Linked DNA regions of Homo sapiens. Each later gene encodes a partner of the first gene's protein in a complex. Each region holds a gene or a part of one and is shown on either strand. Other genes may lie near its edges. The genes, in order: CHCHD3 and APOO.

What was found.
Region 2: CHCHD3 (region 1) and APOO share a complex: the UniProt entries of both Homo sapiens proteins name them as parts of the mitochondrial contact site and cristae organizing system (MICOS) complex.

The regions. Positions count from the first base shown.
Region 1 is NC_000007.14:132,970,542-132,983,044, forward strand, and holds part of CHCHD3 (MICOS complex subunit MIC19), read right to left. Parts: intron 4,746-12,503; coding exon 4,628-4,745; intron 3,484-4,627; coding exon of another isoform or gene 3,436-3,483; exon of another isoform or gene 2,887-3,435; intron 1-2,886. UniProt on the Homo sapiens protein: Component of the MICOS complex, a large protein complex of the mitochondrial inner membrane that plays crucial roles in the maintenance of crista junctions, inner membrane architecture, and formation of contact sites to the outer membrane.
Region 2 is NC_000023.11:23,853,704-23,866,206, reverse strand, and holds part of APOO (MICOS complex subunit MIC26 precursor), read left to right. Parts: intron 1-7,473; coding exon 7,474-7,565; intron 7,566-9,824; coding exon 9,825-9,905; intron 9,906-12,503. UniProt on the Homo sapiens protein: Component of the MICOS complex, a large protein complex of the mitochondrial inner membrane that plays crucial roles in the maintenance of crista junctions, inner membrane architecture, and formation of contact sites to the outer membrane.

The DNA.
Region 1 (12,503 bases):
CTATAACAGACTTAGCATTTTTAAACATTATTTTTAGTGTATCTTTTACCTTTTATTCCTCAAGGACAAGATTTTGTCTTTTATTCATAGATCATTAGTACCTAACATAGTAAATTTCATACAGTAAGCACTCAATAAAACATCTGTCCAAAGAGTAATGGAAGAATTTTGAAGTAAATATTGCCTTAAGTAAGTAAATTGAGACTTCTTTTTAACATTTAGATTTAAAAAAAAAAGAAAAGAAGAGAAAATACTACATAGTTCTGTGATGATAACAAGAAATATGTGGCTGGGCATGGTGGCTCACATCTATAATCCCAACACCCTGGGAGACCAAGGCAGAAGGATCACTTGAGCCAGGAGTTCAAGATCCATAGCAAGACTCTGTCTCTACTTAAATTTTTAAAAATAATTAAAATTTAAAAAATCTAACATTAAACCAGCATAATGTAGTAAGACATAAAAAAGAGTGAGTCAAAATTTTAACTGGAATTTTAAAAAGAAAATATAACTGCAAAGTCAAAAAAACTAACTCACTACTCTTCAATTTCAAAAAAGAATCTAATGACAGCAAATATTAGATCACGTATATAAGATCTTTACAATACACATATCAAGTTGCATTAACTTTACAAATTCCCTGGTCCTGTCCTTCTAGTCAGTCTTCATCTTCTACAGAGGTGCTTTCCTGATCCTAAGAAGCATATTTTGAACGTGAGTTGCTTTTAACATTTTCATGCAGGTAAAATCATTATCAGTAGACTGCCTCTTCCAAAGCCTCTGGATAAAGTCAACTGATTAAAATGCTGGCATCACTCAGTGCTGAGTAGAGGAAGGGGCTGGTATACTCTTCCAGAATCTAGAGTGGGATTAACAGCTTCCCCAGCTAAAGCAATTCTTCCAAAGGGGAAAGTTTTGATCTGATCCTATTTTAAAACTTCAACAACAGGGCCATCATGACTTTGCCCTTCAAAGAGCTTCAATAAAGCTAGCTGCTAAAACAACTGTGGGAAGAAAAAGCCTGGACTCACATCTAAGGAGACAGAAACCTAAATGTCAGCTGTTAGTGAGCCAGAAAGATGTGGGGGGTGTGGGGTAAGGGGTGGGAATCGTTTTATTTCACAGTCCCAACATCACATCAGCTCCCGTGCTTTCACCCTCGCTCTCCTGAAAGACAACTTTTTAATTACTTCACATGTGTGAAACACAATCTTTACTTTCCTGCAGACTGCAACATTTGAGTTCTAAATAAAGAGGAACGAAGCAATGCTTGGCCATTACTCAAAGAGTCCCACATATTAGAATTAAGAATGGCAGCAATAGGGGCCCTCCAAAATAGCAGGAGCAATGCTAACCTTTCTGGGGTGACTCCCACATCAATTATGGGTTCTGAAGATGCCCACCTCTCCAGCTGGGGATCAAGGAACTAACAAACAACAGCAGGCTTGCGATCACTGTCCACACCGCACAGTACTGGTTTGGAGGGTGGTGGGATACATAATCTGAGACCCTAAAGCATGTATAAAATATATACATATGGGGAAGGGAGAAAGAACTTTATACCTCTAAACATTAATGATAGATGACAGAATTATAACAATACTGATTTTCTTTGTAATTTTTTGTTTTCCAAGTGTTCTATAATATTCTTGTATTAATTTAGTAATTAGTGGAAAACTCAGTGAAACACAACCATTAAAATGTGACCACACAAAAACGTATTTATCAGTATAAAAACTTTTACCACATGGCCTAAATGTTTTAATGTGAAGGTTATTGTAACAGTTATACAAAAGAGTGTATACTATTATCTATGTTTGGAGAAATACCGTTATACACATAAAATCAAATGTTTTATACCAACTCAGTGGGAAGTAAAAAGGAATATAAACACAACAAACCAAAATGTTAACAGTAACTATCTCTGAATTGTAGTACATTGAGTGATTTTAGTATCCCTTTGTATTTATTTTCTAATCTTGATCCAATGAATATGTATGTCTTCCATAATAATAAATAACAACAATAAAGGGAGAAATCTGGTAAATAAATTGGGAACTGCCCAATAACTAAATGTCACTGGCAGCCATGTTGCTGTGGCCATGGCAGACCATGCAAATGTCTGACAACACTCTGGGAAGGAAGGGACTCTCTCAATCAGCTGTCATCCTATGGCATAAATTCCACTTTTATTCCCTAAGTGCTTTGAGGGCTCTATTTGGCAAATATTACAACAGATGCTGAAATACAGGAGTTGTGAGTACTACAATTTGTCATCTATACCACACAACCAGAATCTGTAAATAAGAGATCTACAAATCAGAATGTACGAGGCCAGTTTCTCATGCTTCACCAGCTACACAAAGCAGTAAAGACAGACAATAGACAAGATTTATTAGGTAAAACAGAACAGACTGCAGATATGCTATTCCAATCAAAACATGTTGCTTAATATTTTAGTTATGTTGAGTAACAAATCTTTTGATACTTTCACATTTTTTTGTGAAATCTCTTTTTATGTCTTGCTGAGTGTGTGTATATATTTAATGAGTTTTTTGAGTTTTTGAATCTTGCTGGTCTCCATAAACTAAGAGAGTAAGACAGTATGTCCAAATTCAGGCAAAAAGAGGTGGAGAAAGAGTGCTTCAAAGATAAGATTCAAAAGAGTAAAAGCTGGGAGGCAAAGAGAAATGCCAACCAAGGTATTCTTCTGCCCGCTGGAAACTAAGAGTTTTGCTCTCGTACCTTCCTCAAACATGAGCACTATTAACCTCCTCCACTACATCCTTAGCTTCCAAATTTGGAGACTTTAATATACATAGAAATGACTTTTCAACCCACTGACCTGATATTTTTTCAGCTTCCTCAAAAAATCCTTCAGCTTAGACGTACAACAAATTTAATTTTCAGTTGAGTTACTCAAAACTTACTGTCTTTAATTCTGAAATTATTCCCCTTTCACAATGACTGACTTTGCTTCCACCTCTCTTATTCCCTTTGTTCCACTCAACACATGTACTGTTCTTAGGGCAGCTGCCAGTCAGTCCACTGACATTTCTTTCTTGGTCTACCACCTCTATTCTGGCTTCACTATTTGCCCATGCAACCGGGACCCCAGATTTGTCACTGAAGAAACTGATTCATTACGCATGGACTTCCTTTCATGTTCTCTGTTTGCAGCTGGTCATGGGTTGGTCTTTCAGAGAAGTGACTAAGGTAAAGAATGGGAGAGACTAGAAATGAGCCTTCTTCTTAGAAAGTTTTAGTGTTTCCCAATTGCCTAGTGAACTAGGAAAATCCCCCTCACTCTTCAGTTCAAAGTTCTCCATTCCATGGTCCCATTTTCCCTGTCCAGTGAGTTCCCAACTGTGCTCCAATGAGGACTAAAGGTTCCGAGGAGTAACATCTGGGTTTCTAGGAAGGCCGAAGTGGAGGCTAAGCAGTCAACACTCCAGGTTTCACCCAGAGCAGCTCCACTTTTATCTATCAAATAACAATAAGAAATTGCTTAATAAATTATGTTGAATACAAAAGGCAGAACATTATTCAGCCATTAAAAACTACATTTCAGAAAAATGTTCAGTGACATAGGAAAATGTTCATGAGGCTTAACACCATCTATAGCATTATCTAAATGTTTCAATATGTTAAAAAGCCTAGAAAAAAATAATCTCGAGGAAAACACACACTGGTGTAAACCATGGTTATATCAGAAAGACAGATTGATGGGTGTCTTTTAAACCTTCTTCTGTCTGTTAGTAATACTTTTAAAGACAACAACAAAAACATGTCTATGTAATCTTTTAAAAGATTAAAAAATATTTTCTTTTTAAAAAAATTATCTTAGAAAAGACTGTTCCCCAAGGCCCTGGCTCTACATTTTCTCTTCCCTAAACCCCAGGCAGTGATTGATCAAACCTTACTCACCTTTGCCAGAGTCTTCCAGACTAACATCTGGTAGTTGCCAGCCACGAGAGAAAGAAGCCTACATTGCTGACCCCTGAGGTTTCAAAGACAATAAAACCAAAGGCAAAGGACAAAAAAAGAAGACAGGCCGGGCTCGGTGGCTCACACCTGTAATCCCAGCAGTTTGGGAAGCCGAGGCGGGTGGATCACATGGTCAGGAGTTCAAGACCAGCCTGGCCAAGATAGTGAAACCCCGTCTCTACTATAAATACAAAAATTAGCTGGGCACGATGGCAGGTGCCTATAATCTCAGCTACTCGGGAGGCTGAGGCTGGAGAATCACTTGAACCCCGGAGGCGGAGGTTGCAGTGAGCTGAGATCGCACCACTGCACTCTAGCCTAGGCGACAGAGCAAGACTCCGTCTCAAAAAAAAAAAGGAAAGAAAAAGAAAAAAAAGCAGACAACAATCCTTCAGGTGTGAAACATGTACACATGTCTGCATGTTGGTCTTCAATACTTCCAGAGTTACCTGCCTTTAAAGTCCTTGATGGTTAAACCTAAACTGTAAGCTACTTATAAAAGGCAAAAATCAAAATCTGAGCAAAGAGAACATGAATAATATTATCAACACTAAAAGCTGGCACAGAGTACTTAGCTCTTCCCAAACATCAGAGATTTCCTTGTAGGCAAGAAAATTTCTCCTACATTTTTAATACTCACCAGGTGCTTTGCCTTAGCGCGTTCCTCCTCGCTACATATCCTCTCCCGAAGGATGGCTCTGGTTAACTGCTCATTGGCAGCAGCCCTCTCTCGGTCCAGCTCTTTGGCTTGCTTTAGTCTAAAATGACAAGAATTGTCTAAGTTAGAAAAAATATTTTATTAGTTGACATTATTTTCTATCAAATGAAATAATTTAAAAATAGAAACACATAGCCAAAAAGGTCAACAGCTGAAATCATCTTGGCCCATAATCTATCAAAAAAGCAGGTATAGAGGTAAATCCCCATGCAGCCTCCACTCAAGCATTTCAAATAACCAAATTCAAATACATGAAGAAGCTTATTAATTTGGCTGCCAAATATAACTAAGTTTTACAAAGTTCTTCTTATGTAAAATTAAAATCTGCCCACCAAAAAAATTCCATCCCTGGTGCTTCCATTTGGCCTCTGAAAATTTAAGTAATTAACAAACCATCTAGGCCAGGCGTGGTGGCAGCTCACACCTGTAATCCCAGCACTTTGGGAGACCAAGGCAAGTGGACCACTTGAGGTCAGGAGTTCAAGACCAGCCTGGCCAACATGGTGAAACCCCGTCTCTACTAAAAATACAAAACTTCGCTGGGCGTGGTGATACATTCCTGTAATCCCAGCTACCTGGGAGGCTGAGGCAGGAGAACTGCTTGAGCCTGGGAGGTAGAGGACGCAGTGAGCTGAGATCATGCCACTGCATTCTAGCCTGGGCGAATGAGACTCCGTTTAAAAAAAAAAAAAAAAGCCATCTACATGACAAATATTTGAAGGTAACCATCGTCTCTTTCTCCAAACTTACTCAACTCGTCCATTTACTGAATGCACACCAGGCACTGTGCTAGGCATTGAGGACACAGCGATAAACAAGATGGACAGGTCACTGTCATTGTGGATGTTACAGCACAGCAGAGAAGCCAGACATTATGGAACTAATAAGGACATCTTTCCTCCCAGTATATTACCCCTATTTTCCAACAATCCTCATATGCAAATATGACCACGCCTTTCAACTGCAGGGCTCCTCACTTCTGGAATGACTCCAATCGATCTGTTAGCTCCAAACTAAACCTAACCCTCCAGACATGCTCTAGCAAACTAAGACAGGAGAATCTTACTTCCCTAGATCTGTACACAATACTAATTCTATTAATGAAGCATAAGATTGCATTAGATTTCTCAGTAGCCTCATCACACAATTAGATCATATTAAGTTACAACCCACTAAAACCCCTCATTGTACATGATAAAGATAAATTACTTTGGCACTGATTTTTGCCATAGTGCCTGGCACATAGAGGCATTCAGTAATCACTGAATCACTGAAGATTTCAGTCTAATCTCATGAACAAAGATTTTCTGACTGCCTTTTCTTCTTTGAGAGAATAACCCTACTATACCATCATATCCCTGAAGGTATAGCTATGCTTTAAAAAGGAAAAGTAAAATTGTTATGTTGGTGTAAGTGAAATTCTGAGTGAAATCTACTTTATACGTGTGAATGATGAGCACCAAATTCTACTCAGTACTAGCTTATCAAATTTTAGTTTTAAAAAGATTTTTGAAAAAAACTAGAGATAAAATTTTGTGTTACTATTTTTAAATTGCTACATCATCCTGATACTCTGGAATTCTCAGAAATCAACTACAACAGAAAAAAAAAAGTCACCTTGTGAGATATATTCCAAAGTTATCATCCTTTTCCCCTAAAAATCAAAGCTGTGTAGTTTTGTGTCTTAAATAAAAAAAAAGAGGACTAGAAACAAGTTAAAATCTGTATTTCGAAATTCTCTAATGCAAAAGTAACCTTTGGGAAACTTCCTAAGCAATAAGCACAATGACACTCATACAAACCAAATTTCTCTAAATTATTTCACAAGGACCATACAATAAATTCAGCAACATCAATGATATCAACACATTAACACCACTGGATATGTGTAATTGTAAGAGAACAGCAATAATTAGAAGTCACACCACTTCCTAGAACAGCAGTTCTAAAACTACAGTCCACAAACCAGCTGCAGTAGCATCAGCTGGGAGTCTGTTAGAAATGCAGCTTCTCTGATTCCATCCCACACTTGCTGAATCAGAAACTCTAGGGATAGTGCCTAGCAAACTGTCTTTTCATAAGCCCTCTAGAATTCTGATGCATGCTAAAGTTTAAGACTACAGCCCTTAATTACCAAAATACACTTGTACTCAAATAAATCCTGGAGGTAAATGAAAGTAACATCAAAAATGAAGTGCTCCCCATGAGAATATTGTGCAAATAACTGCTGAGGTTATCATATCAGATTACAATACTGTATTTAACGCATTTGTATGGACATCTTACCCCTAAGTAAAAAAGCATTACCTATTTTTACCAGTGAGGTGGAAACTAAAATAAAATAATAAAATTACTATCATTTATGGATCAACTACTAAGCACTGTGCTAGGCACTTTACAAACATATATAAAATGTTTATTCAAATTCTATTATTAGTTCATGAACATAAAATGAATTCTGTTCAACTGAATTATCACATCTACCACATTTGGTGTATCTAATTTTAAAGTACTGTTTAAAAATTACTACTTTTTTTTTCCATTTTAGTTTACTTATGTATGGCTTAGATTTTAATTACATATGGAGTTCTACATGGTTCAACTTTAAGAAATACAGGATCATAAGGATTTTGGCAAGTTAATGAAAAAGAAGCAAAACATGAGCACAAAAGCCTTCAATGTGATAATAAAAATAAACATATTTAGCTTGCCATGACTGGTACAGATATGCAAACTCTGGGTCCAAATCAAGGCTCTAAACTTCCTATCTGAATAAGTACTTTATTTAATCTCCGGTGAGTCCTGTTATTCTCATGGGTAAAATGAAATAGTGTAATACCTACCTTACAGCGTTCTATATAAACAAGGCACTCAGCACAATGCCCATAACATAATATACACTCAATAAATGTTAGGTAAGTAGCAGTAATAATAATAGTACCCACTATGCGGGTAGGAATACAGAGAAAGCAGTGATTTTACGAAATGAAGAAGACAATCTCCAAATTCACTAACTACAATGCCATCTCCATCATCTTTTCCAATTTTTCACCAATAAATTCTGCTTTATTTTTATGATCTCTAAGGACTTCTAAAATCACAAATTGACTCTACTAACTCCAGCAGCTAGACCCTTTCACAAGCTGCTTCCTTTCCCTCTTGTCCATAGCTCCATAAGGACAACGATTTGCCCTATTTTTGTTCACTGCTATATCCCCCATACTTATAAAAGTGCCTGCCACATATCAAACACGCAAGAAAAAGTTGTTGATGTATGCATGTGTGAATGAATGAATGAATAAATAAATAAATGGCATATTTCTAACCACAAACAAAACAAGGAAAACAAACTGCAAAAGAACACAAGGCGATGGTATATAAGAAACAACTAACGAGACAAACTGTATCCTCCAAGGGCTTAGCCACCATGTTAGATGTGGCACATCTGTGATATAATCCCAGGCTACATTAAATAGCCTACAACAGGAGGTGCCACAACAGTCCAGAGCCCCTCCAACATCAACACCTAACTATATTTGACACCTGGATTGAAAGAGGATTGGCAGTGGTGCAAACTGACTAAAAAGAATATTATTTTCCTTTCTTAATAAATTCTTATACTTTCATTCATCCTTACAAATAGAACTGCACAAATTCTCAAATGTTTTTAAAGGAATGTTTATAAATTTTAAAAAAACTTTTTTTAAGGTCTGTATGGTGACTGTTTAAGAAACCAAATTTTTTGTCATCAGGGAGTTTGGCAGTAGGACTCTGAACAAATTCTCATTTCCTATCAACAACTTAGCTGTACAATCTAATAAGCCTCAGTTTCCTCAGTTTTAAAATTTGAAGGTTGAACTACTATATAATCTTATGGTCCTTTGCATATAAACATTCTAAAAAGTCTATACCTTAAACATATTATTCCTCATTCCATAAAAAATCTTGAAAAAGGTGGTGGCAGGGGATAAATAAAACAGAGGGGCATTATATTATCTCCCAGCTTGATACTGTTATAATTTCTACTCGATGGGCACATATACTTCTACTGTAATCCTGAGATTTCTCACTACAGTACTCAACAAAAACTACACACTGGAATTCATAAATTTATTCAGTATATAATTACTAGGTGAAAGGGACTACTCTGGTTACTGAGAATGAAGTAGTGAGCAAGAGACACAGTCCCTACTTTCATGAGCCATGATTACAAATAACAGATGCATTATTTTTAAAAAGTTAGGTAGGTATCTATGACACTGCATGGGTGGGACTGATATTTAACTTGAGCTCTACAGGACATTAACTGAGCAACATGGGGAAGGAGAAAGTGTCTTAGGCAGAGGAAACATCAGTTGGGTCCAGAAGCACCAAGAAAGGATTTCCTTCAGTTAGATTCCTGTGACACTTAGAAGGGTCTCTGAGGCATGAAATCACCTCTGCAAAGAATTTTACTTGCTTTCAGATTCTCTTGGAGGACAGAGTTTCAATGGTATACTGACTGAGGTTCAGTTTTGACCAGTGCCCAAAGATGAGAAGCTTCTAAGTTGTACCATTTCCCATTTAAAAGCAATAGATTTGAAACTTCAAAATTGTACCATTCTCCATTTCCCCAACCCTCCCCTCCAAAATATTGCATGGCAATTATTTTCTTCTAAGTTTCCTCTTTCAATGGTTCCTGTAAATTCTTTACTGAGCCAAAACCACTTTGCAAAGAAAAACTGCTTATGTTTTCAGAAACCCCCAATTACTTTCAAAGCTTCCTCTCTGGCCCCTTGGTTTTATACCGCATGGAGCTATACTATTCAACAGCCATCTGCAAAAGGTAGATGAGCTGTCAACCAATTTTTCTCTTTTTGAACCAAATAAGACAGCCCTGCCATCTGGGCCTCTCTGAAAACTACTGCCCAGATAGTGGAGCTATAAAATCAGAAGCCATGTTGTTTTGGGAACACTTCACTAAGGAGAGAAGACCCAGGCTCTCACTGACCAAGGGAAGGCAGGACTTTATATGTAAAGGCAGGAGATAAAATAAGTCTCTCATTATTAACTTGGGTTTCCAAAGATTTAAGAATTATCTCAAAACAAAACTAAACATGCCAAGTATCTTAGAGAATACATTCCTTTTTTATTTATTGGCATTTCCCACTTAATATTTTAGATCTCCTGCTCTAATATATTCTACATTAAGTCCCTGATTTAAGTTTCATTTAAATTTCTTTCTTTTAAATACATATCTCTCCTCATTTAAATTCTCTAGAGTTTCAAGCAAAGAAGTAGGAGTTTAGTGTAAACTTTTCTTGTTTGCATTAAGTAATTGGATAGCTTGCCTAAGCTTAATGAAACAAATACCAGTCAGTGCTGCCCTTAGACCTCAAGCCCTAGCAACTTAGCTCTTTCCTCAGTATATTGTCAATCAGGCGAGGGACTTAAGGTACACCAGCAAAATGAATTCCTAAAAGCCAGCCAAATCTCCTATAATAAATATTATTACATGTCCTTTTAAATGGGAAAACAAATTAACTACTTATAAAACATTCAACTTTCATGGACAGCAGGTATAAAATCTAGTTCTCTATATTTTAGTCCCAGGGTAAAAACTAGCCAGTTTGACTTTACTCTAAAGAACCTCAAGTTTTTAAGAAAGTAGAAAGAGAATTTTAAAGATAACTTTAGCAAGGCATTAACATATTGAACTTCATTCACCTCCATAAGGGAGGCATTACTAGCTCTAGTTTTTTTGTTTTTTGTTTTTTTGAAACATGGTCTTGCTCTCTTGCCCAGGCTGGAGTGCAGTGGCATGATCTCGGCTCACTGCAACCTCTGCCTCCCAGGCTCAAGCAATCCTCTTGCCTTAGCCTCCCAAGCAGTTGGGACCACAGTTGCATGCCACCAAGCCTGGCTGATTTTTGGGTTGTTTTTTTTTTTGTGGAGACGAGGTTTCAGCATGTTGTCCACATGGTCTTGAACTGGGCTCAAGTGGTCTTGAACTGGGCTCAAGTGATCTGTCCACCTCAGCCTCCCAAAGTGCTGAGATTACAAGCACAAGTCACCACACCAGCTACTATCTCCATTTTTAACATGAGAAAAACTGAGAAGTACAACAGAGGTGTGAAAGATGGTGATCTGACTTCCAAAGTCATACTTCTTAAACATCTTAAAGAGTAAACTTTCCTATAGGAATTAGTTTCCATTATACTACTCACCTTTGTGGTCATGTAAGGACAGTTTTTAAATCTTACATTATTCACGGTTATTTTAAAATAGGCTCTTTTAAAATTTGTGTATACTACACTAAGTCAGAGTTTGCCAGAGTCTAAATTATTACCACCCCTTTCCCAAAGTGGTTTGGCTTTTAATGGCCCTAAATGTTTTTCTGAATTTGGATACTGCTCATTTGGCCATTCACAAATACTCAGATTTATCTTCATGTAGGTTGACACATAAGTAATTCTATACAATTCTAGCTTAGAAAATTACTTTATAAATGTAATACATAAGGCCATTACACTATGGAGAGAAAGTTGATAAGAACTTCAGATAATGGGTAAGAATAAATGGGAAACGGAGATTGCTAGAGATAAAGTGATTTGACTAAATGACTTATCTAAAGTTGAACCGTGACCGTTATACATAGGCAATATATACAAGATACTGCAATGCACTTGATGCAGAAAGGCTATTTCAAACACTGAAAGAGAAAAATGAGTGACGACAACCTCAAAGGTCATTTTAATGCTAACAATGAATTTTATTTTAACGCATCATATTTTGTCAGAACCTGCCGAACCAGCATTCAAGATACTGTTTACCATCCATTTTTAAACAGAAGAGCTAAGCTGGGTAATTCAATGAAGTAATTATTAGACTATTAAAAATAAGGACAAAACACGTATACAGTTTTTGATTAATAAGACTTGACAAAAATAAGGGAACAGAGAAGCTTAACACTTCTCAGCTCAAATCGTTTCAAATCCTGGAAGAAAATATATGTGGATTGAGATTCCAAAATAAATACATAAACATGAATATGGCATCTTAATTTTTCTTTTTTTTGAGACGGAGTCTCACTCTGTCTCCCAGGCTAGAGTGCAGTGGTGTGATCTTGGCTCACTGGAACCTCCACCTCCGGGATTCAAGCGATTCTCCTGCCTCAGTCTCCCAAGTAGCTGGGATTACAGGCATGTGCCACCATGCCTGGCTAATTTTTGTATTTTTAGTAAAGACAAGGTTTCACCATGTTGGCCAGGCTGGTCTTGAACTCCTGACCTCAGGTGATCCACCCACCTCAGCCTCCCAGAGTGCTAGGATTACAGGCGAAAGCCACCACACCCAGCCTAAATTCATATATAATATCTGCATGTGTGACAGAAAAAGAGTTAGCATTTATTATGCTTACTCGTACCAGGTACAACTGTAAGCATTTGATGGGTGTAACTCATTTAATCCTCACAACAACCCTATTAAATCAATTATATTTCGGATGAAAAGCTGAGGCACAGAGAAATTATGTAAAATTGAGGCCTACAGAACTTTTAAGTACAGCTGAACCTTCAATAACACACGTTTGGACTGTGTAGAACCACATATGTGCATTTTTTTTTCAATAAATATATTGAACATTTTTTTGAAGACTTGTAGCAATTTGATAAAACTCACAGATGAATCACATATCTATAAATATAAATAAATTTTTAAAGTATGTCATGAATGCATAAAATATGTTGATTCTGGTCAGTTTTATCATTCACTATCATAAAATATATACGAATCTATTATTAAAAAGTTAAAATTGGCC
Region 2 (12,503 bases), on another chromosome or scaffold:
ATTTCAGCTATCGTTAGGGAGATAGGAATGTAGAAGTGAGTGAGAGGAGCTTCCCCCTCCCTCTCCTGGTTAGAGCATGTGGGAAAATCTTCCAGGTCCAAAGAAAGCACTTTTTCTGTGCTGTGGGTACGTTCCTACAGTGCCGAGAGCTTGTCCCTGGAACATCCACTAGGATGACCATCCTAAGGAGGATTGGAGATGGTGCTCTCCTGGCCAGAGCAGCAGCATGAGGACATCTGCTACAGTGGGTCCTAGTCCTCTGATTTTGTTTGTTCGTTCTGTCTCTTTTCTTCCTTTTCCTGGGGAGAGCTTGGTAGTATTAAAATAATTTGACACCTTAATTCTTTTTCACAAATATTCACACAGGCACGCACACACACATGTGCAATAGCAGGTCTTTTCTCCTGAGCGTTGGGTATAGAAAGACCTGAGGTGAGCAGCATCAGAGGGGTTCACCAAGCAAGATGAGTGGGGTGATAGGGATGTCTGTGGGTAGCCAGAATGGTTTGCAGGCCCCTCCAGGTGAATGGGCCCCTTTGAGGGCAGCAGCAGGGTGGGTGGGTGCAGAAGGTCCCTCCTGATAGGAGTTTCTTTTTTTTTTTTTTGAGACAGTCTTGCTCTGTTGCCGAGACTGGAGTGCAGTGGCGCCATCTCAGCCTCACTGCAACCCTGCCTCCTGGGTTCGGGTGATTCTCCTGCCTCAGCCTCCCGAGTAGCTGGGACTACAGGCGTGCACCACCATGCCCAGCTCATTTTTGTATTTTTAGTAGACACGAGGTTTCACCATGTTGACCAGGCTTGTCTCGAACTCCTGACCTCAAGTGATCCTCCCACCTCAGCCTCCCAAAGTGCTGGGATCATAGTTGTGAGCCACTGTGCCTGGCCTGGTGGGGTTTCTTGAGCGTATCTGCTAAGGTAGTCTGCTTCAGTTGTTGAGGATTGCCACAACTGTGGTGGTGACAAGAGGCTCTCAGAGAGGTGAATGGATGTCCATTCAGAGGAAGTGGGCCCAGCCAGACCACTCCAAGATGACACGTGGTTGTTGACACTATTGTTGCCTTCTGGTGGCTCTCCCCAGCATTGGCCACCAGTGGTTCCCCCCGCCCCTGGCAGTGCTGATAGTGACAACCTGTACCACTGGCCTCTTGGGAGATAGGGCATGGAGGTGGGGGCAGGGGAGTATGATTACACCTCCTTCCTGAAGTTCTTGGGTCTCTGGCTCATTGTGTGAACCAGCAGGAGCTGGAGGCCCGAGAGCTGCCACTTCTCGGCTCTCCCTGGAGGAGTGAGAAATGACTGGGTGGCAGGTTGGCTGCTCTTTCCCTGGTCCTCACTTGGGTGAGCTGCTTCAAGTGGATGGGGGCAGGGGAGGGGCCATATGCAGGGATATCACAGGCTTTTCTCTTCTAGGATAATTATACCCTTTCAATTCATGCAACAGGATCAGGAGAGAAACAGTAAATCATTAATAGTCTAGGTTGATAACATTTGTATTCTCTTCAGCAGTCCCAGTTCCATCGTTGGGGATTTCTCTGTTTAAAGTTTTAAAGCCAATAAACAGTACTTATGTGATTAGAACCGTTTAAGGATTAATGTACACATTCTGTCGGGGTACAGTGGCTCACACCTGTAATCCCAGCACTTCAGAAGTTCAAGGCGGATGTATCACCTGAGGTCAGGAGTTCAAGACTAGCCTAGCCAACATGGTGAAACCCGTCTCTACTAAAAATACAAACATTAGCCAGGCGTGGTGGCGGGTGCCTGTAATCCCAGCTACTTGGGAGGCGAAAGCAGGAGAATCACTTGAACCCGGGAGGCAGAGGTTGCAGCAAGCCGAGATCGCACCACTGCACTCCAGCCTGAGCAACAGAGCGAGACCCCATCTCAAAACAAACAAACAAACAAACAAATCAGCCGGGTATGGTGGCTAACACCTGTAATCCCAGCACTTTGGGAGGCTGAGGTGGGTGGATCACCTGAGGTCAGGAGTTCGAGACCAGACTGACCAACATAGTGAAACCCTGTCTCTACTAAAAATACAAAATTATTTGGGCATGGTGGCGCATACCTGTAATCCCAGATTCTTGGGAGGCTGAGGCAGGAGAATCACTTGAACCCAAGAGGTGGAGATTGCAGTGAGCCGAGATTGCACCATTGCACTCCAGCCTGGGCAGCAAGAGCAAAACTCCATCTCAAAAAAAAAAAAAAAAATCAATAACACACACATTCTGCTAGCATCTATATGGGTCCCACAGCAAAAAACACTATGCCTCTCAGTGGAGTCAAGGCCATGTGTATTCTCTAGTTTCATCCTCTACTGGTTTTTTTAACCTCATTCTCAGGTTTCTCCAGGCTCTGTGTCCTGCTGTCTCTTCTGTCCATTTCCCTTGCTCCACAGCTCTATATCCTCCTACAATCTGGCCTGAGACTTCAACACAGTTCTTGTTTTGGGACTGGTCTTCTTCACACTTTCTTGGGTTTAAGCCCCCTTTTCCTGGGTTCCATGTCATCTTCTCCTTGGTTTACTCTGCCGTGCTGTTGAACTACATGCTTAAGTCACTTTCAAAAAAGCGTATGTTGGAGGTAAACTTCCCAAGACCTTCCATGTCTGAAAATCACTTTCTGCCCTCATACCATGTGACAGTTTGGTTGGGCACTGAATTTTGTTTGCCATCAAAACTTTCAAAGCCATGTATTCTAGCATCTGGCGTTGTAGATGTGAGAGTCAGTAGCCATTCTGGATATTTGCTGCTTCTGAACAGGTGATACATTTTTTTTTTCTTCCTGGAAGCTTTGAAGATCTTCTGTGAATCTTTAGTGTTCTGAATTTCTTTGGTGCTGTGACTAGATAGAAGTCTTTTCTTTTTTTTTGAGACGGAGTCTCACTCTGTCACCCAGGCTGGAGTGCAGTGTCACAATCTCCGCTCACTGCAACCTCCTCCACCTCTGGGTTCAAGTGATTCTCACGCCTCAACCTCCCAGTTAGCTGGGATTACAGGCGTGCACCACCACGCCTGGCTAATTTTTGTGGTTTTAGTAGAGATGGGGTTTCACCATGTTGGCCAGGCTGGTCTTGAACTCCTGACCTCCAGTGATCCACCCGCCTCAGCCTCCCAAAGTGCTGGGATTACAGGCATGAGCCACCATGCCCAGCCTTGGATATAGTGTTTTCATTCTTGCCCAAACAATATGGCGGCTTGCAGCATCCAGCTGAAGGAAAATATCTTCTTTTCCTCCCTCCCTCCCTCCTTCTCCCTTCCCTGCCCTCCCCTCCCTCTCTCCCCTTCCCTCCTTCTCCCTCCCCTTCCCTCCTCCCTCCCCTTCCATCCCCTGCATCCCTCCCTCCCCTCCCTCCTTCTCCCTTCCCTTCCCTCCTTCTTCCTTCCCTTCTCGTCCCGTCCCTTTCTCTTCTCTTCTCTTCTCTTTTCTTTCTGAGAGATGATCTCACTCTGTCACCCAGGTTGTAGTGCAGTGGCATGATCAGGGCTCACTGCAGTCTTGACCTCCTCAGGCTCAAGCAATCCTCCCATCTCAGCCTCCTGAGTAGCTGCGACTATAGGCATGCACCACCACACCTGACTAATTTTTTTTTTTGTGGAGACCGGGTGTCACCATGTTGCCCAGGCTGGTCTCAAACTCCCGAGCTCAAGCAGTCTTCCTTCTTCAGCCTCCCAAAGCGCTAGGATTATAGGCATGAGCCACTGCGCCCAGCCTATCTTGTGTATCTTTGAAAATTTACTCTCATTCTTTTTCCTTCCTCAACGCATTAATTAGCAATTGAGTTATTTAAAAGGACCCTATGTGTCTCTTATATTTTCTTGATTATTTTATTTTGTTCCTTTTGAATTTTTTTTGCTTTGGTCATTTCCAAGAGCTCCTTCCTGTTCTTTGAATGTTCTTTTTTTCATAGAATTATTTTTTTCTTTTAATGTAGTGGCTTTTAAAATTTATTTGATGATACTTAGTAATAGGTTTAGTTTTGTTTTGAAGTTCTTCTGTTTCCTTTGTGCTTGTCTTGGTCTTTCTCCTTTATGTTTCAGGCTTTCCACAAATGACTGGTGATTCTTGGTTATCCAGTCATGTTTCAAAGTGAGGCAGCTGAAATGCTAATAAGAACTCTTTCACCTGTAATCCCAGCACTTTGGGAGGCTGAGGCAGGCGGATCACCTGAGGTCAGGAGTTCAAGACCAGCCTGGCCAACATGGGAAAACCCCATCTCTACTAAAAATACAAAAAATAGCCGGGTGTGGTGGAGGGTGTCTGTAATCCTAGCTACTCAGGAGGCTGAGGCTAGAGAATCACTTGAACCCAGGAGGCAGAGGTTGCAGTGAGCTGAGATCACGCCACTGCACTCCAACCTGAGCAACAGAGCAAGACTCCGTCTCGGGAAAAAAAAAAAAAAAAAAAAAAGAACTCCCTGTCTGTACATGGGGCCCACTGACGGGCAGGTTCTACCTCAGGGGAGCTGGGCAGGAAGTGACCATATACAAGGGTGCACCCAGGGCCAGTGTGAGGAGGGCTTTTCTCTCAGGCACTGACATACTCACCCCTTCCAGCTCTCTTGGTTCTCAGCAGGAAATCCATGGTGTTTCTTTAGTGATACCCTGCCCCCACTGTTTTAACTCTTTTTTTTTTTTTTTTTTTTTTGAGACAGGATCTTGCTTTATCACCCAATGTGTTAGGCCATTCTTGCATTGCTATAACCTAACACTGGGTAATTTATAAAGAAAAGAGGTTTAGTTGGCTCACAGTTCTGCAGGCTGTACAGGAAGCATGGCACCAGCATCTCCTCGGCTTCTGGTGAGGCCTTGGGCTGCTTGCAATCATGGTGGAAGGCAAAGGGGGAGCTGGTGTCTCACATGGCAAGAGTGCGAGCAAGAGAAAGAGGTGGGGGAGGTGTCACACATTTTTAAACAACCAGATCTCAAGAGAACTCACTGTTGCACAAGGACAGCACCAAGGGAATGGTGTTAAACCATCTGTGAGAAATCCACCTTCATGATCAGGTCACGTCCCACCAGGCCCCACCTCCAACATTGGGGATTACAATTTAACATGAGATTCAGAGAGAACAACATCCAAATTATCACCCAGGCTGGAGTGCAGTGGCATAGACACAGCTCACAGTAGCCTTGAACTCCTGGGCTCAAGCAATCCTCCAGCCTCAGCCTCCTGAGTAGCTAGGACCACAGGCACATGCCACCACACCTTACTAATTTTTTAATTTTTTGTAGAGATGTGGTCTCCCTAAGTTGCCCAGGCTGGTCTCAAACTCCTGGGCTCAATCAGTCCTCCCACCTCAGCCTCCCAAAGTGCTGGGATTACAGGTGTGAGCCACTGCATCAGGCTCATTTTTTTTTTTTTTTTAAAGGAATAGAGATGGGGGGCTGGGCGTACTGGCTCATGCCTGTGATCCCAGCACTTTGGGAGGCTGAGGCAGGTGGATTGCTTGAGCTCAGGAGTTCAAGACCAACCTGGGCAACATGAGGAAACCCCGTGTCTACAAAAACTACAGAAAAAAAAAAAATTAGCCAGGCATGATGGCTTGCACCTCTTGTCCCACCTACTTGAGGGGCTGAGGCAGGAAGATAGTTTGAACCTGGGAGGTCGAGGCTGCAGTGAGCCATGATTGTGCCACTGCACTCCAGCCTGGGAGACCGAGTGAGGCCCTCTCTCAACAGAAAAAAAAGAAATGGAGATGGAGTCTCGCTATGTTACTCCAGCTGGTCTCAATTCCTGGCCTCAAGCAATCCTTATGCCTCGACCTCCCCAAGTGCTAGGATTACAGGTGTGAGCCACCACACCCAGTAACCCTGGTTTACTGGGTTTTTTAACATTTTGAACTGGTGTGACTTCCTGGCCAGGGGTAGTTTTGTACTGGGATGGCATAGGGGAAGGAAAGGCCATGCTGGTCCATGCATCGGACTTGCGTTTGTCCTGTGCCCTTGTCTTGCTCCCTGGTTGCCATCTCCACTCCCCATGGTACCTGCCATCTCTGGATCTGGAATCTCCCTGGGGCTGCCTGGGACAGATCTGCTCCCTCTGAGGCTGCACTCCTCCTCAAGATTTCAAGATTTCAAGGCAGTGTGTCCTCTTATTTCCGTTCACTCTCCATTTTCTGAAAATTGATTGACACTTCCTTTCTGCCAGTGGCCCTTCCACACATTTTCTCTTCATTGTGGGTTTATTAATGTTTTTTCTTACTGTTTTTTTAACGGGGTTGCAGAAAGGGGAGAAGAAGAACGCTTGTGTTTAGTATTTATATAGGAAGCCAGATTGCTATAAAAGAACATAAACCCTAGAAACCAAAATACTCATTTGTTTATTTTTAAAATAATCTTTTTTTCTGCTCTCTTAGGGAAAAAAAGGTGTTCTTTTGAAAACACTTGGTGCTGAGTGAAAGAAGCCAGTCACAAAGGACCGTATATTTACTGCATGATTCCATTTATATGAAATACCCAGAGGGCCGGGCGCAGCGGCTTACACCTGTAATCCCAGCACTTTGGGAGGCCGTGGCGGGTGGATCACCTGAGGTCAGGAGTTCGAGACCAGCCTGGCCAGCATGGCGAAACCCCATGCCTACTAAAAATACAAAATTAGCCGGGCATGGTGGCGTGTGCCTGTAACCCCAGCTACTCGAGAGGCTGAGGCAAGAGAATTGCCTGAACCCGAGAGGCAGAGGTTGCAGTGAGCCAAGATTGCGCCATTGCACTCCAGCCTGGGTGACAAGAGCAAAACTCTGTCTCAAAAAAAAAAAAAAGAAATATCCAGAGTAGGCAAACACATAGAGATAGAAAGTAGATCAATGGTTGCCTAGGGCTGGACGGTACGGGGGAGTTGAGGAATGACTGCTAATGGGTTTCTTTTAGTGATTATGAAAAAGCTCTAAAGTTAATTGTAATGATGGTTACACACCTCTGTCAATATACTAAAAGCCATTGAACTGTACTTTAAATGGGTGAATATGAATTTTATCTCAATAAAGCAGTGCAAAAGCGTTTTGGTGCACATGACTTTATTTGGCACATTCTTTCAGTTTAGGACCAAAGAAATCTTATTCAGTGGTGGGGTTATTTTGGTTTTGTTGTTTGGGTTTCTTAAGAGACACGGTCTTGCTCTGTCACCCAGGCTGGAGTTTAGAGGTGTGATCATAGCTCATTGTAACCTCGAACTCCTGGGATCAAGGAATCCTCCCACCTCAGCCTCCCAAGTAGCTAGGACTATAGGCACACACTACCACGCCTGGCTAATTTTTTTATTTTAATCTTTGTAGAGACAGGATCTGACTATGTTGCCCAGGCTGGTGTCAAACTCCTGGCCTCAAGTGATCCTCCCGCCTCGGCCTCCCAGAGCTTTTGGATTATAGGCGTGAGCCACTGTGCCTGGCCTTGTTCCGTATTAAATGGATAAGGTAAATTGTGATGGTGAGGATAATGAATCATCTGATGGCGTGTACAACCTTTTATTTATCAGGTTCAAAAATAAAGAAGCTAGTGTATCCGCCTGGTTTCATGGGATTAGCTGCCTCCCTCTATTATCCACAACAAGCCATCGTGTTTGCCCAGGTAAGAGAAACTCTGTAATCCATGATGTCCCTCATTCTTGTTTGTGTGTGTATGAATCTGATGCTTAATTTTATTTTATTTTGCAGTTCTTATAACACCAGACTAAAATTTGTTTGTACATATAGATGAATACAGAAAATTTAAATGATTTTCTCCACTATATGCCTCAGTTCTGGCCCTTCTTCCAGTAATGCCAGTGTTCACAGAATTTGAACACGAATTTGCGTGATTGTTTGAATGTTCATCAGCAAAAATTTAATATACATTTTTTGTATACTTACATGGAAGTCTAGAGACTCAAATTCCAAAGCTGATAATTATGGGTCACTCAGTTTATGCATGTCCGGTCACAACCTGCTCTCGTTGGTATTGTAGACCCAGACTACTCTGACTTCCACTCCTCCCTAGTACTGGTGCCCTTGCTTTCCTTGCTGGGGACTTTGGGGACTGTAATCCCCTCTGCTTGGAGTGCCCTTTTCGGGGCTTTCAGTTGGCTGCTCCTTTCTTATCCTTGAAGCCTCAGTCTTATGGTACCCTGGCAAGCAGGTCTATCACGGTGGCAGGCAACATGGATAAAGCTGTACCACCGATTCTTAAAATGTGTTACCAGACCAGAAGCAGCAGCATCACCTGAGAACTTGTTAGAAATGCAAACTCTCAGGCCCCACCCCAGACTGACTGAATCAGAAGCTCTGGGAGTAAGGGCCAGCAGTCTGTGTTTTAGCAAGCCCTCCGGTGGTTTGTTATTAATGCCTATGGTGTTTGAGAACCACTGATGGAGACCAGTAGGTAGCCTGAAAAGGGTGATATCTGGAGTGAGTGGGACTCTAGAGATGGTGTCCCTCAGGAACTGGTAAGAACAAGACAGGCTCTAGGTTTTGAGGTCCTGGGCAGATTGTGGACACAGGGACTTTAGCTGCTGGAACTACCACATCACATGGAAACTCAGTTCCAGGAGCAGACAGCAGTGCAGTCACCCAAATTGGACTCTGAGCCAGACTGACCTGAGACTGAGCTTCCTTGGTTGTTCATGACAGTATTGAATCCAGATTCCTTGATTGGGCTACAGTTGTATGTGAGAGTCCAGTGGCCCCAGCTTGGGGAGCTTGATGGCTTTGATGACAAATACCAGTACTTTCCAGCATTTGCTCAACATTGTTTGTAACAGTCCTGGAGGCAGATAGTTAATGCTTCTGTCCCTGCTCCAGCCCCAGGTCAGGAACAGTGAGTAACATCTTCCAGCCCTAGATATAAAAATAATTAAACATTATTTCAGCCTGTTATGGTTTAAGCAGTAAATAGCTAGAGTGGAGAGGGTGAACTTGGTTGCTCGTTGAGAAGCATATGTGGCTGTCCCCAGAGTAGGAGTCTTTTTTTTTTTTTTTTAAATTTCTTTCTTTTTTAACTTTTAGCGTTAGGTGTACATGTGCAGGTTTGTTATTGTAAATCGTGTGTCATGAGGGTTTGGTGTACAGATTATTTTGTTACCCGGGTAATAAGCCTAGTACCTGATGGGTAGTTTTTTGATCCTCGCCCTCTTCTCACCCTCCACCCTCAAGTAGGCCTCGGTCTCTGTTCCCTTCTTTGTGTCCATGTGTTGTCAAGGTTTAGTTCCCAATTACAAGTAAGAACATGTGGTATTTGGTTTTCTGTTCCTATGTTAGTTCACTTAAGATAATGGCCCCCAGCTCCATCCCTGTCCCTGCAAAGGACATGAGCTCATTCTTTTTGGCTGCATAGTATTCTGTGGTGTATAAGTACCACATTTTCTTTATCAAGTCTACCATTGGCTGGGCATGTTGGCCCACGCCTGTAATCCCAGCACTTTGGAAGGCCGAGGTAGGTGGATCACCTGAGGCCAGGAGTTCGAGACCAGCCTGACCAATGTGGTGAAACCCTGTCTCTACTAAATACAAAAAATTAGCTGGGTGTGGTGGCACATGCCTGTAATCCCAACTACTTGGGAGGCTGAGGCAAGAAAATTGCTTGAACCCAGGAGGCAGAGGTTGCAGTGAGCCAAGATTGCGCCATTCCACTCCAGCCTGGGCAACAAGAGCGAAAACTCCATCTCAAAAAAAAAAAAAAAATCTACCATTGATGGGCATTTAGGTTGATTCCATGTTTTGCTATTATGCATAGTGCTATGATGAACATATGCATGCATATATCTTTATAGTAAAATGATTTATATTCCATTATTATTCCCAATAATAGGGATTGCTGGGTCAGATGGTAAGATCTTTTCTATTTTGTTTTAAGGTCAGTGGGGAGAGATTATATGACTGGGGTTTACGAGGATATATAGTCATAGAAGATTTGTGGAAGGAGAACTTTCAAAAGGTGAGGAGCATCTTTTTCATTATCTTCCTTTTGGTTTAAATATGTGGTTTCTCTAGGGTTTTGTAAAATATTTGATAACCCTGTTGATTTATTGCTTTTTCTGTTTGCTTCTAGTTCTGTCTCCAGCTCAGATTTTTCAGGTGACCTTTCTTGGTAGAGCAGTAGAACTTCTGAGTATTTGGTTATTATCAGCAGGGCCAAATAAGTGGTGACCATAAAATGCAATGCATTCCACCGTAGTCTTAGACCATATTTTCCATTATATTGTATTCCTAGTTTCCTCTAAGTGTAGCGTATTATTTAAAAGTCTTATTGAAACTGAATTCAAAGGGAATGTACTATGCTCCCAGGAAAAAGACATAATTGAGAGCCTCTTCCTCTTGGTTTTTCACTTATCATGAGTTCTGTTCTTTCCTTAGCACTGCTGTTTCTGTTTATCCCCCAGGCTTCTCAGCTCAGCTGAGGGTGTGAGCCATCGTATGTTGGGGACTAGCTACCAGCTAAAGGCCACGTTCTCTGTGCTGTCTAGTACATGAGCAACAGAGGGAAGAAGTTGTGTAATTGTAAGAACTTGTCACCTTTCATCTCTTTTAGTGGCCACATAGCCGATTAAATGTTGCCTATGTTCGCTTGGAACATTCCCTTCCTCCCACTGATAAGGAAGAATGAGTAGAGAATAAGGTATCATGTCTCTACTAAGCACTCAGAGGCACAGCCAGCTAAGGAAGAATTAGACTTCTTATATTAATATACCTTCTACATCACAGATTGAAGGAAGTTCATTTTTCAATGAAAATACTTTTTAAAAAAAAATAAATAACTGAGCTTCAAATCATTGACAAGTTAAAAAAATACATATAAATAACTATCTCAGAATTAAAATCCAGAATTTTGAACTGGGATTTGGAAGTAACAGAATAAATTATAAGCCCTCTTTATTATTTACATAAATAATCTTCTAGTGAAATCTTAAGACTCATTTTTTGGCCAGGTGCAGTGACTCACGCCCAGCACATTGGGAGTCCAAGGTGGGAGGATCACTTGAGCTCAGGAGTTTGAGACCAGCCTAGGCAACATAGTGAGACCCTATCTCTCCAAAAAATAAAAAATTTAGCTGGGCATGGTGGCATACTTTGGGAGGCTGAGGTGGGAGGATTGCTTGAGCCCAGAAGGTAAGGGCTAAATAGAGTGAGCCATGATTGCGCCACTGCACTCCAGCTTGAGCAACACAGTGAGGCCCTGTCTCAAAAAAAAAAAAAAAGAAAAAAAGAAAAAAAACCCCACTAATTTTTATACTGGTGGTTTCTAAAGGAATTAGTCCTTCTCGAGCCTATTTAAACTAGCTCTTGAATAGGAAATTCTATACCAATATCAAGAGTCTTTTGGCAATCCCTGTTTTTTTGATTGTTTTTTGTTTTATTTCTCTGATATTTTCTATGGAAGCTTCCTTTCCTTTTTAAAAAATTCCTTAACAAATGCGGCCAGGTGCGGTGGCTCATGCCTGTAATCCCAGCACTTTGGGAGGCCGAGGCGGGTGGAGCACCTGAGGTCGGGAGTTCCAGACCAGCCTGGCCAACATGATGAAACCCTGTCTCTACTAAAAAAATACAAAAATTAGCTGGGCATGGTGATGCACGTCTGTAATCCCGGCTACTCAGGAGGCTGAGGCAGGAGAATTGCTTGAACCCAGGAGGCAGAGGTTGCAGTCAGCCAAGATTGCGCCACTGTACTCTAGCCTGGGCAACAGAGCGAGACTTCATCTCAAAAAAACAAAAACAAACAAGCAAAAAAACAAATGCACACTAAATTTTATATGGGAAAGGAAGTAAAATATCAAGAAATCTCTAAACAGCCCTAGACAGAAATGTGGAAAGTGAGACTAAAAGCCTCAACTGCGAGCCTTCATTGTGGTGTGACTGCAGACTGAAGCACACCAAAGCCAGAGGGAGTCCCCCAGGCTCCCCGGAGTGCTCACTGTGGTGTCTGTGCAGACACACACGCACACCAAAGCTAAAGTGAGGGCTGCGGGAGCCTCTGGCTTGGAAACAGCATTCTCTGACTGTGCTAAGAATTCAGCCCAGTGCAGAAGCAGCTGGACTGTGGTTAGGATACCAGTTAAGCAGGCCAACATTTTCTGGTCATTTGAAGACATTAGATATTAAAGCTACCCAAATTTATATGCAGATCTTTTTAGAGTGAGGTGGTAAAGATTTTTAATTAGCTCATGATTGGTTTGCATTTCTCTCTGTCTTTATACCCTTGCCTTCTTCAGAGTCATTGAGAACTTAAGGCTTTCTCCTGTTTGTTACTCTCCAAGGATAATTTTATTGACAGCTGTCTGTTCTCAATAGAAGGTAATAAAATCAGGGCCAGGCACAGTGGCTCATGCCTGAAATCCCAGCACTTTGGGAGGCTGAGGCAGGCAAATCGCTTTGAGCCTAGGTGTTCGAGACCAGCTTGGGCAATATGGCAAAACCCTGTCTCTACAAAAACTACCAAAAAAAAAATAATAACCAGGTGTGGTGGCATGCACCTGTAGTCCCATCTACTTGGGAGGCTGAGGCAGGAGAATCTCATGAGCCCAGGAGGTAGAGTTTG